Regions from separate parts of the Homo sapiens genome. Here region 2 is linked to region 1. The links come from fine-mapping of genetic effects on gene expression. Tissue or cell type: whole blood. Region 1 holds a variant in brackets; the other region holds the start of a gene. All regions are shown on one strand. Distances are between the middles of the regions.

Region 1 (5,377 bases):
TAAGCCTTTTCTTTGTTAAGTAGTGGTGTTTTGCTTTTTCTTCAGGATTGGATGGCATGTTGTCCACAGGAATGCCTACTGCAGGGCTAACACTGGCAATATGGCAGCTTTAAATTCTGAGTTACTACAGTCTCCATGTCAAAGCATAATGTGTAGCATATCAGCAATAACTACATATTTATAGAAAACACTTTTTCACTTTACTGAGCCAATTCATTTAATTGTCAAATGTCTATATCCATGGTTTAAATGGCAACATATCTATAAGTATGTATACACATTATATTTAAGCTTTTCTCTGGGCCAAACTGCTTCATCCTTTTTTCTTTCTTTTTTTTTTTTTTTAGCCTTATGATGAATTTGTTTGAAGGGCATTTTCTTTATGAACAAAGGCTTGGATGCATATTCCTTTCTTTCTGTGAATGGGTATTATTCCCTGAGGAAAGTTGCACAGTGAAAACCAGTCTGGTTGTGACCCACTACATGTTTTGTTTTTAATCACTATTACCTGAGTTGAACTTTGCTCACCATGTTTGTACTTGTTGGTCTGTTTAATGAAGTTTGGTTGATGCCATCCTTTGCACTGCCGAAGCGTAATCTTGTGTATTACTTAGCTCTCTGCTGATCTCAGTATGGACAGTGTAACAACAAAACCAAAATGGCTGGACAGACTTCTTGTGTTTTGTAAATATAAACTAGGACAGTTCTGTAGGTTTGTTCAGTGTGCTAGTGGAGTATTTCCTTAATGTAAAACTTCACTTAACAGAGAGATTCTTTGTTTAGCAAGCTTGGAGTGATGATAAAATGGTAAGAAATAATATAAATGTTGAAGAAAGCATCACAACAGAACTATAGGAGTCTAAATTTAATAAATCTTTAAAAAAAACCAGTGTCTAGAATATATACCATGTTTTATTATTTAAAATCATTGTCTTAAATTTTTGTTCAAAAAATAAAAATTTGAATACAATCAAAACGTTAGCAATAGTGTATTTTTTGTTCTTCTGTATTTTTATAAGTAGCATGTTCCACCATTCACATCAGAATTATTAGAAGAGTTCTGTCAAGTATTCCTTTTGAAATCTTCCTTTTACCTGAGCCATAGGTAAAATAAATAAGGACATAGGCAGTCCTGTGACTTAAGTATGGCTTTTCTACATTGGTTGCCTGTTAAAATCACCTGGAGAACTTGTAAAAAAAAAAAAAAATACACAACACACACCCTGGGCCCTGTACACAACACACACACACACCCTGGGCCCTGTACACAACACACACACACACCCTGGGCCCTGCCCACATAGATTTTGGTGTAATTATTTTGGGTGAGGCCTGAGCTCTTCTACCCGTGATTCTACTGTGAGAATGACTGGCTCGTAATGACCTTTAGAAAAGAGCCAGTGGTCCTTTGGGCCCCTCTCCCCCCGGGCTCACAGCTTGAACTCAGCCTTTTAGATCTTACCACTCTAATGGCTAGAAAATGTAAATCCAAAGGAAGGAATGGAGTGGCATTATTACTTGAGACCCAGATGGGAGATGCACCTTACATACTTTCCAAGGCCAGGTCCCTCCCAAGCTGGAAGCCTTTACAGGCCTGTTTTACCACCATCCCATGAGAAAAGAATGTTCTTAACTGGAGAACAAATCCGGGGTAGAAAGAATCCGCTCTCAGCTGATATTTTTGTCTCTCCGTAGTTCCTGTGTTGAAACCTAATGCCCAATGTGAGGAGGGTCTTTCAAGGTGAGGCCTTTGGTAGGTGATCAGAGCCGTCAGGATGGGATTGATGCTTATAAAGGAAACCCCAGAGAGCTTTCTTGCCTCTTCCGCCATGTGAGGATACGGCAAAAAGGTGACCAGCTATGAACCAGAAAGTCAGCTTTTACTAGCCACTAAATCTGCCAGGGCCTTGATCTTAAACATTCCAGCCTCCAAAACTGAGAAAGTTTTGTTGTTTATAACCCACCCAGTCTATGGTATTCTGTTATCGGAGCCGTAAGACACAGTCTAAAAGGGATCTGGCCCAGTAAACAAACATTCCTTCTCATTTGTGTACTTCTAACCCTACAGTTTAAGAAATGATCAACACAAAGTTGAGTATGTCTTAGAATTTCATAGCTAGGTGGATCTTGAGGATCCCTCACCCTTATTTTAGAATGAAGAAGCTGAGACACCCACGGTGAGAGCTGTGATCATAGGGTTAGGTAGGCATGGTGCTGGTGGCAGAGCTGGGAGTAGCCCCTCTATCTGGTCCCAGTGTGGTATATTTCTCCGCTGGACCACATTTAAATTTATGCTTACACTGGCTTGAAAATTTACCTAGACCTTAAGGGGGAAAAATATCACAGTTTTAATAACCATCTGTATCCTAACTCAAAAATTGTTCTAGAGAACCAGATTCAAACCTGTAGAACAAGAATGTAAATTACTATAAAGCTCATTTAAAGTGAAATGCTTTACATACATGATTGATAAGATTGATGCATACCACAAGACTGTGTTCATGAGAATGGAAATAGTTCAGACCTTTCCTTCTGAAGTTTATCAGGATCTAGTGCTTGAGTTATTTATTTATTCATTTCAAGTTATAGTTTACGACCATATCAAGTTCATTTCGGTGAAAAGAAAGCAAACCGCAAAATGGTGAGTACCTGTCTCTGCAGAGCTGCAAGGATATGTGTTTAGTTGGGTAATTTGCTTTAAAAATATTGATACCTAGAAAAAAGTTTAAAATCACTATCCTAGTATTTTCTAAAAACAAAAATACATATCTTTAAGAGATCCCTAAGCAGCTAGTTTCCTAAGAACCAAAATGTGCTAAGCCTTTCACATGGCCCCTCCTCAGTTCCGAGAGAAATTGGCAGAGACTGTGGGTGTCTGGAATGGTTTCATGTGGTTGTGCTGTTTAGACTAATCATCATTAAGACATCCATGCTAATAGCATGGACTTGTAATTATCTAATTTAAGCAATTTAGGGATAT[C/T]ATTTATTCTTCTACAGGACTGAGAGTATCTGCACCCCTCCTCTGCTGCCTGCACACCCCATTGCGGTCATGCCACCTTTGTTTCCCAACCCTTGTCACCAGATGTGAAACCTCTATCATTTCCCCTCATGACTGACGGACACCAGGCCAGCCTAAGGAACATGCTGGAGAAATCCAGCAGACTATTTATTGTGCAGCTCTGGAGCAGGGGAAAGGAATGGGTTAGAAGTGGTGACTTGGGAGTAATTTCCCTAGAGGTGATGGCTGAGACAGTGACTATAACTAAAGTCAAAGTGCCATTTAGAGAGACAATGGAAGAAAAACATCTAGGAAAAGAGGCTGCCAAACCTGGGGTCCAAATGGGCTTTTTGGTAGCTATGGGACTTTAGGAAGCTTCCTTCATCTTTCTGAGCCAAGCTTTCTTAACCATGTAGAATGGAGATACTAAAGCACCTGAGGTGGTAGAGATGATTCGATGAGGTCATGTACATGAGCATAGGGACAGTTAGTGCCTTTTTCCTCCCAAAGAAGAAAGAAATAGTAAAAGGAGTGCCACAGTAGCCTTGGAAAGAGAGATTTCAAGAAGGAAGTGGTCACGGGAGGGGCCGTTGACCGTAAAGGATGAGAAGAGGCTGGTGAACTCTGGGGCAGGAAACTCCCTGTAGAGTTGCCAGCGTGGGTCTCCGCCATAGTGAATTGTCTCAGACGTTGATAGATGAAGTGTCTGCGTGGGAGTAATACAGCTTCTTTATGAACGATTTTTCTTGTTTTACACAGTGATATATTTTCTACAGTGAGAGACAAAGGGGTGGGACTTTCAAAGACAGAAATTGCTCCTGACCCTGAGAGCACCCATATGACTCTGATGCCAAGGAAACAGTTTAAGAAAGGCAGCTCCCAGGAAGCCAGTTCATCAGAGTGGAAGAAGCAGAAGTCAGATGCTTTAGGTTTGGCTGCGTGTGAAAAAGACATGAAAGCGATGGGCACAGATATTTGGAAACTGCAACAACGATGCATTTCCACCCAAGGTCCCAGTAATACTAAGCCAAAAAACTAAGCCTGACTTGAATTTGTGAGAAATGTCCTAAGAAGTTGGGTCATTAAGAGACGATGAAGGGGAATTGTCCATCCCCATCTTCCAGTCTCCTGACTTTATCCTAGACTGTCTCCCAACAGCATAATCGGCATCCCGGAAGCAGCTGTGGGCACCCTAGCCCTGCCCACAGTCTGCCCTTTTTCATTTTGTTCTGATTCGCTTATTTTTGGTTATATTGCTTGTTTTACTTCCTGCTTTGTCTCTACATTGACTTGGAGCTTGACTTCTGACTTCAGCTTCTTCCTCTGACCCCATGTTCCTCAGCCTTACTCCAAGCCCAGGAAAAGGTGGTCCTTAATTTTCTATTCTCATTTCACATCACCATCTCTCCAGCCTGAGCTCTCCACCCCCAACCCAATGGCTCACTCTCACCAGCCGACCCTTTTCCGTGTGGAACCAGAGCTTCCTTGCTCCCATGCTGTTTCCTTGCCCTGAAAGTTTCTCTCCCTTCATCCTCACTTTCCCTGTCTATGGGGATACTCTCCTTCTTTATTGTTGGTTTTTTTGTTTTATTGTTTTTTGAGACAGAGTGTCACTCTGTCACCCACCTGGAGTGCAGTGGCGCAATCTCTGCTCACTGCAGCCTCCACCTCCTGTGTTCAAGCGATTCTTGTGCCTCCGACTCCTGAGTAGCTGGGATTACAGGCGTGCACCACTACATCCAGCTAATTTTTGTATTTTTAAGGGGTTTCACCATGTTAGCCAGGCTGGTCTCAAACTCCTGTCCTCAAGTGATTCGCTTGCCTCGGCCTCCCAAAGTGCTGGGATTACAGGCGTGAACCACCGCACCTGGTCAACATACTCTCCTTTAAACCTCAACTCACATTCAATTCAGGACCTTTCCAGAGTTGTGTGTGCCCACATTTTGTCCCTTTCATTTTGTCAGGCATTTCACTTACGTGTCTGCAGGTCATTTCCAGTTTTCAGGGGCCTGGACTTTGCATATCTTAGTAGTCCTTTTTTGTGCTTTTTTCTCTTTGTACCCTTCCCTCCAGTGCATTCATGTAATAGTCACTCGGGAAAGGTCTATTGTTGACAGTCAAGCCAGAATCAAAACATTAATTCTGGCACATATGTCATTTAATACCTTTCCACCCTCTCATTGTGTTAGTAAGGTGTTTGCTATTTCATGCTCCCAACCCCCCCACCCTCACCCTACTAAAACAAAAGATTTCTCTACACATGAGTAAAATACTAAAATTTTATTTTCCCCTTCTAGAATCTTCTAGTTCTGGTTTTGGGTTTTTGTTGTTGTTTTTGTTTGCTTTTTGTTTTTTGAGACAGAACCTGCCTCTGTCGCC
Region 2 (5,377 bases), 40 kb before region 1:
CCAGAAAACATTTTTGAAAAAATGCAGAATATAAAACAATGCTTAAATTAAGCAATTGGTGTTCCTCAAATCTAAGAGGGCATTTAATGATAAGATGCAGCATTATTTTATATATCACTAAGATGCACTATTATTTTATATTTGAGTAAAAGAAAACCACAAGCCATTGGCTGGGCACGGTGACTCACGCCTGTAATCCCAGCACTTTGGGAGGCCGAGGCAGGTGGATCACGAGGTCAGGAGTTCGAGACTAGCCTGAACAATATGGTGAAACCCCGTCTCTACTAAAAACACAAAAATTAGCCGGGTGTGGTGGTGTGCAAATGTAGTCCCAGCTACTGGGGAGGGTGAGACAGGAGAATTGCTTGAACTCAGGAGGCGGAGGTTCCTGTGAGCCTAGATCACGCCACTGCACTCCAGCCTTGGCGACAGAGCGAGACTCCACCTCAAAAAAAAAAAAAAAAAAAAGAAAAAACGCCAATTAACTCTAAGATGGCATTGACTGTGAGATGCATTCCCATTTCAGAGAAATTAAAATTTGTTAAAGTGTTTTTTTGAAGTGTGCCTTAGAATTAACTACAATCGTAAATTTTTGTTTGGAACGTTATTTCGATGTTAGAATTCTATTCCACTTTTTTTTAAGACAGGGACTCACTGTCACCCAGGCTGGAGTTAAGTGGCGCGATCACAGCTCACTGCAGCCGCCACTTCCCAGGATCAGGTGATCCTACCACCTCAGCCTTCCCGGTAGCTGGGACTATAGGTGCCATAACCATGCCTGGCTAATTTTTTTTTTTTTTTTTTTTTGTAGAGACAGGGTTTCATCATGTTGCCCAGGCTGGTCTCAAACTCCTGGCCTCAAGCAATCCTCCTACCTGAGTCTCCCAAACTGCTGGGATTACAGGCATGAGCCACTGCGCCTGGCCCTCCATCCTGCTATTTTTATCAGCCAGTAACTCTCAACAGTGGGAATTTGATTTTGAAGCATTGTTCTTTCCCACTGATTCTGCACCAGTGGAGCCAAGGATGTTAATCGAGGAATGGTTCGGACATTAACTCTTCTAGTTGTAGTTTGTCATTTAATTGCAGATTGAGGTAGATCATTCAGTGACTATTAACTACCATAAACAGCAATAATAAACAACTTCTTTTCTTTTTTTTAAATTCATCTATTTTTTTTCGAGACAGAGTCTCGCTCTGTCGCCCAGGCTGGAGTGCAGTGGCGCGATCTCGGCTCACTGCAACCTCCGCCCCTCCAGGTTTAAGCAATTCTCTGCCTCAGCCTCCGGAGTAGCTGGGATTACAGGCGCCTGCCACCACGCCCGGCTAATTCTTTGTATTTTTAGTAGAGACGGGGTTTCACCATCTAGGCCAGGCCGGTCTTGAACTCCTGACCTCATGCTCCACCTGCCTCCGCCTCCCAAAGTGCTGGGACTACAGGTGTGAGCCACCGCGCCCAGCCACAACTTCTTTTCAAAATTGAATTCAATTCTGAAATATCTCAAGGGAGGTCATGGATTATTTAAAAGGAAATCACTTGCAACAATAAACATAAAACAATGCAGAAATAGTATAAACTCATCTAGATTGAAGAAACACAAACATTGAGTACTAGCATCTTCTTGGGATGACTTAAAATTAGGACAAATACTTAGTTACCTTACTACCCAAAGTGACATTTCTTCCCATTTTAGAGCTGTGCTGTCCACACGTACAATTAAAATTTTCTAGTAGCTAGCCAAAGTATTTAAAAAGAGAAATTAACTTAATAATTTACCTAATTTAATGTAGTATGTCCAAAATATTACCTTTTCAACATGCAATCAATATAAAATTTACTAACGAGATGGTCTTCCACATCTGGTGTACTGTTTACTCCACAGAGTGGCAAGCTGCCTTTCCAACCCTCACTTAGCCACATGCGGCTACCGTATTGGATGGCAGTCTTAGGGAATTTCAATATCAACTGATTCTTTAATTCTGAATTTGAGAATTTCTTTTTATAATACACACGGTCGCTAAGGCGCTTAGAGATCTGTGAGGCGCATGGAGATTATTTTACTCTCCGGTCCCTTTTGATCCAAGATCCCACAGCATTAAAAGCAGTAAGAGGGAAGGCAATGGGCATCCCTTGCGCCCAGGAACGTGGCCTGGAGGGCCTGGCTGCTCCGAGCAGTAGCAGTGCCCGGCGGGGAGGCTGCAGACGCGGCGTTGGAAGTTGGATTTCTAGACAAGCTCCGGCAGCTGCCCGGAACCCGTGTCTTTTTCTGGGGCACCCAGGAACAGCAGGGCCAGACGGAGAGAGAGCAGCCTCCAGCCAGGCACAGGGTCCCGAGCTGCCACCGACACCGAGGGAGCCCGGCCCAGGGCTGCAGCGCTTTCCGCCTAGGTGGGCGGCAGCGGGAGCGAGGAGCCGGAGGAAGCCCGGCCTGCGTCCTGCGGGCAGCAGGACACGATCTCCCCGGCGCGCTCTCGCCGGCGCCGCAGCGGGCGCGCGGGCGACAGGGTGGGCGTGGACCGATGGGGGCACCGCCCCTGGGAGAGGCGGGCGCCGCGGTTCCGGGGGCGGGACGCGCCGAGGAGTGGGGCGCGAGCCGCCGGTTTTGATTAGTGCGCGGAGCTGCGGCGGTGGAGCTGCTCGGCCGGGAGCCCGGCGGCGAGACGGAGAGGCGGCGGAGGTGCCCGCGCGCAGGGTCTGGTGGGCGGCCGCGAGGCTCGGGAGAGGCGAACCGGAGCGCGGGACCGCGGTCGCCCCGACCAGAGCCGGGAGACCGCAGCACCCGCAGCCGCCCGCGAGCGCGCCGAAGACAGCGCGCAGGCGAGAGCGCGCGGGCGGGGGCGCGCAGGCCCTGCCCGCCCCTTCCGTCCCCACCCCCCTCCGCCCTTTCCTCTCCCCACCTTCCTCTCGCCTCCCGCGCCCCCGCACCGGGCGCCCACCCTGTCCTCCTCCTGCGGGAGCGTTGTCCGTGTTGGCGGCCGCAGCGGGCCGGGCCGGTCCGGCGGGCCGGGGGATGGCGCTGCTGGACCTGGCCTTGGAGGGAATGGCCGTCTTCGGGTTCGTCCTCTTCTTGGTGCTGTGGCTGATGCATTTCATGGCTATCATCTACACGTGAGTGAGGGACCGCAGGAGGGGCTCGGGGCAGGGGTCCGGGCCTCGGAGACAGGCGAGAATGGGAAACGTTTGCGCTTTGAAGGGGACTGGGCTCGGGCGGGGGTGGAGAAAGCTGATCGTCAGGCTGTTCCCCCCGTTCCCTCGCCCCTCGGACCGGCGGTGGCGGTGGTCTTTGCGAGGGAAAAGTGTTGGGCGTGGGAAGGGTTTGCTGGGTTGCAGGCGACTGCCCAGCCAGGCTAAAGGAGACTGCTCTTACGTGTCAGGCTGAAGGTGGTGGCTTGGTTTGATTGTGCTGGGGATTCGTGTAATTTTTCATCTGGGCCGAGATGTATGGTGTATTGTTTTTTTCTCCCGACCTGGGCCACGTTTCTGTTAGGGTGGTGATTGTGTCCACTTTTCTGGGAGCTGCTCACAGCTATCTGGACACCTCTCTGTGGATTTTCTTCTTCCTGGAAGGGCTCTATGCGCTTAGATAGGTGTGAAGCACCTGTCCACCCTGAAAAATGTCCACCAAACCTCCGAGCTGGCATGATAGCTTTGAGTCCTGTCAGCTTGTACATCTCAGCGTGGTTTTCTTTCCTTTTTTCAGTTCCTCGTTTTATTGTTTTATGTAGATTTGTACTCTCCCCGTGCCGGCCACATCTTTTCATTTTTGTTTAACAAATACTTCTTGAGGCCTACTAGATACCATTCACTGTTATTGGCCAGGGGACATGGTGGTGAGCAGGACAGAATTCCTGTCCTCATGAGTCTTACATTCTAGAAGGAAGGAGCAGATAAAATCTAAATAAGGTTATGAGATTGTGACGAAGCGTGTAAGTAAAATAGAACTGGGTGATGGCGTGAATAGAGACATGGGTTATGTGGCTAGTTTGGTATATCCACTGTTTAAGGTGAAATCTGCCTCTGTAAAGAAATGAAAAAATTATATAGAGCACATTACTGATATCGATTCACTTGGATTTTTAGTCTGGGGGGAGAAAAGAGCAATTGTATATAGTAATCGTTACCATGAACTAGAATAGAGTGTATGTTAGTGGAAGAGACTTTAAGAAATTAGTTACTTTTAGTTTTTTGGTTTTTTTTTTTTCCTTTTTACTGCGGAAAAAGTGTGCCTTTGCTTTTGGAAACACTGTATTTTATTAGTATAGTGTGGCATTTCCTGGTACTGAGAAAGATGATGCTGGTACAGGTTATACTGATATTTCTTTGAAAGTGAAAGAAAACATGCCACTTGGATATTGTTGACTTTAGTTTTTGGAGTTGGTGAGCTTAGTCACAGCACATTCTGGAGTTCATTTAAAATATGTGAGTTCTTTTTCTTTAAAAAAATTGTTACTTTTTACCGTCATAAAAATAAAAAATGCTTACTGTGTAAGGAATTTATGCAATAGAGAGAGATGGAGAAAATTAAAATATGCACACACCAAAACTACATTACCTTGTTAACCTTTTGTGACTATCCTTCCAATCTGTGTGTGTGTGTGAGAGAGAGAGAAGGAGGGAGGGGAAGAGGGAAGAGAGAAAAGGACTATATTATGATTATTGTTCTGTAACCTGCTTTAAAGTTCATCTGTTTAATAAATGTTTATTGAAAAGCCGTTTTGTGCAAGGCACTGTTCTAGTTGCTGGAAGAGTGAAGAACAAACATACAAGGCCCCTGTTCACATGGAACTGTCCTGTAAAATGTCTTGACCGTTTTTTGCATGTCAATATCTGTATGATCTCTACATCATTTGTAATAGATGCATGATATTTTAGTTTACCAGGTACCAAGATTTATTTATTATTACTGATGGATGTTTAGGTTGTTTCCAATTTATCTAGATTACAAAGAACACTGTGATGAATTTATATGCATACATCTTTGAGAAATGATCTCATTTATATTTCCGAAAGAGGAATTATTGGGCCAGAAGTGGTGCACATTTTAAACTTTGATACATATTGGCCCCATGGAAATGTTATGTATATTCACAGTCCTGGTAACATTGTATGATGGCCCCATTTTGCCTTACAAACACTAAGTAGCAGGCATTTCACTGTTTTCTGTTTCTATTTTCATTCCTTTAAAGTTACATTGAGCACTTTTAAAATATGTTTATATGCTAGTTACATTTAGATGTAAATTACATACTCATAATCCTTTGCCTGTGCTGCAATCTGTTGCTGAATTCATCTTTCTGATATAAAGGTTGTTTTCTGTCACATGTAGCATTCTTTTCCCCAGTCTGTTTTTTGTCTTTTAACTTTGTACATATATTT

What was found. PIP is the estimated chance that this variant, and not a neighbour inherited with it, causes the effect.
Region 2: it holds the start of UGCG, and the variant in region 1 is fine-mapped to the expression of UGCG in whole blood (TOPMed, PIP above 0.99).

The regions. Positions count from the first base shown.
Region 1 is chr9:111,934,394-111,939,770 of GRCh38, forward strand. It overlaps UGCG (UDP-glucose ceramide glucosyltransferase), which reads left to right. Exons shown (of 9, transcript NM_003358.3): 9 at 1-976. Among named protein-coding and RNA genes, the nearest start is that of MIR4668, 5.0 kb to the left of the region's middle. RefSeq lists an enhancer at 3,492-3,801. The variant C/T (reference allele first, on the strand shown) is at 2,981.
Region 2 is chr9:111,894,205-111,899,581 of GRCh38, forward strand. UGCG (UDP-glucose ceramide glucosyltransferase) reads left to right here and starts at 2,610. Exons shown (of 9, transcript NM_003358.3): 1 at 2,610-3,109. The coding sequence starts at 3,012. RefSeq lists an enhancer at 2,061-2,644 and silencers at 2,265-2,854, 2,965-3,054.